2 separate regions of the Homo sapiens genome follow, and region 1 is linked to region 2. Evidence: fine-mapped expression QTL. A gene starts in region 2. The other region holds a variant in brackets. All regions are shown on one strand. Distances are between the middles of the regions.

Region 1 (3,018 bases), 31 kb before region 2:
ACCCCACACTTCTCACCTAGGAAGAAGCCAAGAAAGCGTGTCCAGGAGAGGGAGCAAGGGAGGGAAGCTTCTGATACTACTGGGAGGCAAAGTGGGGACAGTTGCAGTGGATTCAGGACCCGGAGGACAGGGGAGTTGAAAAAGTGAGGGCTGAACCCGGGACGGAGGCCAGGCTTACTGTTGAAGGGCTGGAGAGGACGTATTTGAGGTTTAAGGGCATATGGTCTCTGTTAGGCACCTTGAATGCTGTGCTGTTATAGGGAAAACAGCCAAGACAGTCTGTAAGTGAGTGGGCGTGGCTGGGTTCCAGTAATACTTTATTTCTAAGAACAGGTGTTGGGACATAGTTTGCCCGGCTAAAAAGGAACAGAGAAATGGAGCAATAGGCTGACAGGGCTGTTTTATGACTGAAATGAACATAAGGGTTTCTAGCCCCGTGGATCTCAGCCTGCCTGCACATTAGACTCACCTAGGAGGTTGTTTTTGTTGTTGTTTTAAGAAACAAGGTCTCGCTCGGTTGCCCAGGCTGGAGTGCAGTAGTGCAATCATAGTTCACTGCAGCCTTGAACTCCTGGGCTCAAGGGATCCTCCTGCCTCAGGCTCTCAAGTAGCTGAGACTACAGGCGTGCGCCTGTGGGTCTCAGTGTGTTGCCCGGGCTGGTCTCAAATTCCTGAGCTCAAACGATCCTCTCGCCTCCACCTCCCAAAGTGCTGGGGTTACAGGCATGAGCCACCAGGCCTGGTGTAGCCTAGAAAGTTTTTGTTGTTGTTTGAGACGGAGTCTCGCTCTGTCACCAGGCTGGAGTGCAGTGGCGCGATCTCGGCTCACTGCAACCTCCATGTCCCGGGCTCAAGCAATTCTCCTGCCTCAGCCTCCTGAGTAGCTGGAACTACAGGTGCATGCCACCACGCCCAGCTGATTTTTGTATTTTTTAGAAGAAACAGGGTTTCACCGTGTTGGTCAGGCTGGTCTCAAACTCCTCACCTTGTGATCCACCCTCCTCAGCCTCCCAAAGTGCTGGAATTAGAGGCATGAACCACCACACCCGGCCACCTAGAAGGTTTTTTAAACATATGAGCCACACCCCACACACTGTGCAGGCAAAAAAGTGGAAAGCCTATCACAGTGAACACCTTTGTCCTCTAGAGTCAGTAATTATAAACATTGTTACAGTTCTTTTCTTTCTCTTCTTTTTTTCCTGACCACTGGGAGTTGCAGATATCATGACACTGCATCCTTAACGACTTCAGTAGGCATCTGGCGAAATCAGGGCCTTCTCCCGCATAGCCACACTGCCCTAACAAGCCCATAAATGCTGTAAAACAGCAGCTCGCATGCCAACATTTTCCAGTTATCCCCCAAAATGTCTTTTTAGTTTTTTGTTGTAAGCAGCATCCAATCAAGTTTCCCACCCGCAAAGGAGCCTTTTCTGACTACCGGAGATTCTAGAGTATGTGGGAGACACATTTATGACGGAAGAAGAAAAAGATCTCGGCAGGCGGTGCTGGGGCCTAGAGTGCAAGTGGAGGGTGGGCTTGAGTGAAGCCAGCTCGTGTCATCATTTATTTCAGGAGGGAAGGTGGGGAGGGCACAGCAGCTGTGGGTGACCTTGTTTAGGGGAAGTCAAGGCAGCCCATGGCCGATTGTTCTGGT[GT/G]TTTTCCAGTGAAGAGGTGGCAGAGGTGGTGGTGCAAAGAGATGGGAGATGCTGTTCTGGAGAGTGGAGAGCAGATACACCCTGGGAGAAGAGCAGGCCTGCCAGTGGCAGTGTGGATGGTGGGATTCATGAGCTGAGGAGGGGGATGGTGGAATTCATGAGCTGCTGAGGGAGGGGGATGGTGGGATTCATGAGCTGAGGAGGGGGATGGTGGGATTCATGAGCTGAGGAGGGGGATGGTGGGATTCATGAGCTGCTGAGGAGGGGGATGGTGGGATTCAGGAGCTGAGGAGGGGGATGGTGGGATTCATGAGCTGAGGAGGGGGATGGTGGGATTCATGAGCTGAGGAGGGGGATGGTGGGATTCATGAGCTGCTGAGGAGGGGGATGGTGGGATTCATGAGGTGCTGAGGAGGGGGGTGGTGGGATTCAGGAGCTGAGGAGGGGGATGGTGGGATTCATGAGCTGAGGAGGGGGATGGTGGGATTCATGAGCTGCTGAGGAGGGGGATGGGATTCATGAGCTGCTGAGGAGGGGGATGGTGGGATTCAGAAGCTGAGGAGGGGGATGGTGGGATTCATGAGCTGCTGAGGAGGGGGATGGTGGGATTCATGAGCTGAGGAGGGGGATGGTGGGATTCATGAGCTGAGGAGGGGGATGGTGGGATTCATGAGCTGCTGAGGAGGGGGATGGTGGGATTCAGGAGCTGCTGAGGAGGGGGATGGTGGGATTCATGAGCTGAGGAGGGGGATGGTGGGATTCATGAGCTGCTGAGGAGGGGGATGGTGGGATTCATGAGCTGCTGAGGAGGGGGATGGTGGGATTCATGAGCTGCTGAGGAGGGGGATGGTGGGATTCATGAGCTGAGGAGGGGGATGGTGGGATTCATGAGCTGAGGAGGGGGATGGTGGGATTCATGAGCTGAGGAGGGGGATGGTGGGATTCATGAGCTGCTGAAGAGGGGGATGGTGGGATTCAGGAGCTGCTGAGGAGGGGGATGGTGGGATTCAGGAGCTGAGGAGGGGGATGGTGGGATTAATGCCCTGAAGCAGTGGATGGTGGGATTGAGGATTGGGTTTTCTAGGGAGGAGGGACAAGGCAGTTAAGGGTTTCACAAAGGAGAGGTTCTGTTGATTTCCCCCTGAGTCTAAACTGGGTAATGAGGGACATAACAGAGAATGATGGGTGTGAGGACAGGGCCTGGAGTCGTGATGTGGTTGAAGAATTACTGGATTGAAGTTAATACAGTCAATGAGCTAGAAAGAAAGGCTGGAGAGAACAGAAAGGATCCTTGGAATTGAGGGGTTGTTTTGTTTTGTGATAGTGTCTCACTTTGTCACCCAGGCTGGGGTGCAGTGACTCT
Region 2 (2,500 bases):
TAACTCAGCACTGTTACAGTATGGTATGAGGCCACCACTTCTCCTGTTGGCCTTCTTAGTTTCTCTCCAACCTCCCCTTTTCCCTAGTTTATAAGACAGGAGAAAAGGGAGAAAGCAAAAAGTTGGAAAGAAACAGAAGTAAGATAAATAGCTAGACGACCTTGGCACCACCACCTGGCCCTGGTGGCTAAAATAATAATAATATTATTAACCCCTGACCAAAACTACTGGTGTTATCTGTAAATTCTAGACATTGTATGAGAAAGCACTGTAAAACTTTTTGTTCTGTTAGCTGATGTATGTAGCCCCCAGTCACGTTTCTCACGCTTACTTGATCTATTATGACTTTTTCACGTAGACCCCTTAGAGTTGTAAGCCCTTAAAAGGGCTAGGAATTTCTTTTTCGGGGAGCTCGGCTCTTAAGACACGAGTCTGCCGACGCTCCCGGCCGAATAAAAAAACCTCTTCCTTCTTTAATCTGGTGTCTGAGGAGTTCTGTCTGCGACTCGTCCTGCTACAACAGAATGGGACAATACAATGCATGTCATGTAAAAGTAACTCCGGCCGGGCGCGGTGGCTCACGCCTGTAATCCCAGCACTTTGGGAGGCCGAGGTGGGCGGATCACGATGTCAGGAGATCGAGACCATCCTGGCTAATACGGTGAAACCCTCTCTCTACAAAAATACAAAAAATTAGCCGGGCGTGATGACGAGCGCCTGTAGTCCCAGCTACCCGGGAGGCTGAGGCAGGAGAATGGCGTGAACCCGGGAGGCGGAGCTTGCAGTGAGCCGAGATCGCGCCACTGCACTCCAGCCTGGGCGACAGAGCAAGACTCCGTCTCAAAAAAAAAAAAAAAAAAAAAGTAACTCCTATAATCTTAAGTACTAGTGTAATATAAAACTATACGCATGCTCCAGAGAAGTCATCCTGGCAACCTCTCTGGAAGGAGTTTGAAATAAACCGTATCTTTCTCAACACGCTTGTACACCCCAAGTCTAGCATAGTCACACAACAGAGAAGTTCAGTCTGGCAACACACTACAGCCGGAGACAAACTAGGTGGCCACCGTGATGGTTCAAGCCAGGAACTAGTTAATTAAAGGTTGAGGTGAGCAGGCTTGTCTGCGACATTTGCATATTTCTGACTTGCGTACTTAGAAGACGAAGGCCAGTACCCTTAAGACTGATGGTTTCCGAAAGAAACACTGTCGTCTCTAGTTGCTGTCCTCCTTCCTCCTCCCTGTCTATCCCGGAGAAAAGACCCTCAGAGAAACACCCACACTTAGTCTCTGGCCCTCGGCTCCCAGGAACGCTGCCGGAGCAACACCGCCGTCTAGGCTGGACGCTGAGAGAGGATCGTCCACGACTCACTTCAAGGCTGAACCAAGAAAACACAGTAAAGGAACTTGCCGGCGGCCGCGACGGTAGCGTCAGTTAGAAATCAGGTCTCCAGTGTTCCCAGTTCCCACCAGTCCAACTGCGAGGAGTGCGACGTGAGTCTGAGTCTGATCCCTCCGAAAACCGTACTTCCGGCGCTGTCTCGGAGGCCTCCCGTCCCCTCCCTTGTCCGTCTTCTAACTCTTCCCCACGCCAGGTCCGTCAAGCCTAAGTCCTTGAGTTCCGGGTCCGGGCAGCAGAGAAAGGAAGTCCTCTCCCTGGAGGCCTATCTCCCTCAGAACTGCGCGAGAAGCGAGACCTTAGAAGGCAGGGCTTCCCGCGAAGGACCGGAAAGGAGCGCCTACTAAGGACGCCGTCGAGGTCCGGGGCGCCTCAACTCTATAGCTCTAACTGGCTAGAAGTGCCCAACGTGGAATGTTTCTTTTTTAAAGGCGGCTCTTGAAGCGACCCGGAAGCGGAAGTGGAAGAAAGTTCTAGTGGCTTGAGGTATCCGCAGGAGCGGCCGGGTGGCGGGAGGAACCGTTACGGGAACTGAAGTTGCGGGTGAGCGCCAGCCGCGGAGCAGGGCCCTGATTGGAGGCCAGAGGGGTTGCGGGGAGAAGGGGAGGAGAGGGGTCGCAGGCGCTGTGGCGGGCCCTGGGGGAGAGCTTGGCCGCGCTGCGGGGAGGGGGCGGGGTGCAGCGCGTGGGAGCCGGGCCGCGGGAAGGGGCGGGCCGCAGCGGCGCGCGGTGGGGGCGGAGCTGGGGCGCGGCGTGAACCCCGCGGGCGGGGAGCGGGTGTGCGCAGCGCTAGGTGTGCGCTTCGCCCTGTAGGTAGAGAGACCCTTTGGTTAGCTTTCCACGCCAAGTGGCCGTTCCAGGCAGGCAGTGTCGTCTTGGTTCAGCCAAGGTCACAGAGGGAGTGATAGCTTCCGCGCAGCCCTGGCTACGGACTCTGGGCATCTTTCCACTGCCCCGCTTGCGCCACCTGTTAGGCAGGATCGTTTTTCCTCTGGGGCAAGATCAAAATCCAGGTCCTGCAGGAAGAAACTCCTCTTAAAAATAGTAGGGAAGAGTCTCCCTGGAACTGTTTTCTCCTTTCAGGATGAGGGGGATCGAGCAAG

Alleles and levels. Positions count from the first base shown, and alleles are read on the strand shown. Sizes are in standard deviations (SD) of each study's normalised expression.
For the expression in esophagus mucosa of the gene that starts at base 1,528 in region 2, allele GT in region 1 goes with a lower level than allele G (small effect, 0.31 SD a copy in GTEx).

What was found. PIP is the estimated chance that this variant, and not a neighbour inherited with it, causes the effect. A credible set is the group of variants that fine-mapping cannot tell apart.
Region 1: its variant is the best candidate, but not a certain one, in a credible set for the expression of EIF1AD in esophagus mucosa (GTEx, PIP 0.85).

What each region holds. Positions count from the first base shown.
Region 1 is chr11:65,968,970-65,971,987 of GRCh38, forward strand. All of the region lies in intron 12 of SART1 (spliceosome associated factor 1, recruiter of U4/U6.U5 tri-snRNP), which reads left to right. Among named protein-coding and RNA genes, the nearest start is that of SART1, 8.7 kb to the left of the region's middle. The variant GT/G (reference allele first, on the strand shown) is at 1,655.
Region 2 is chr11:66,000,630-66,003,129 of GRCh38, forward strand. It overlaps EIF1AD (eukaryotic translation initiation factor 1A domain containing), which reads right to left and starts at 1,528. Exons shown (of 6, transcript NM_001242481.2): 1 at 1,281-1,528. It overlaps BANF1 (barrier to autointegration nuclear assembly factor 1), which reads left to right and starts at 1,874. Exons shown (of 3, transcript NM_003860.4): 1 at 1,874-1,941. RefSeq lists enhancers at 1-124, 1,226-1,595 and a silencer at 1,896-2,235.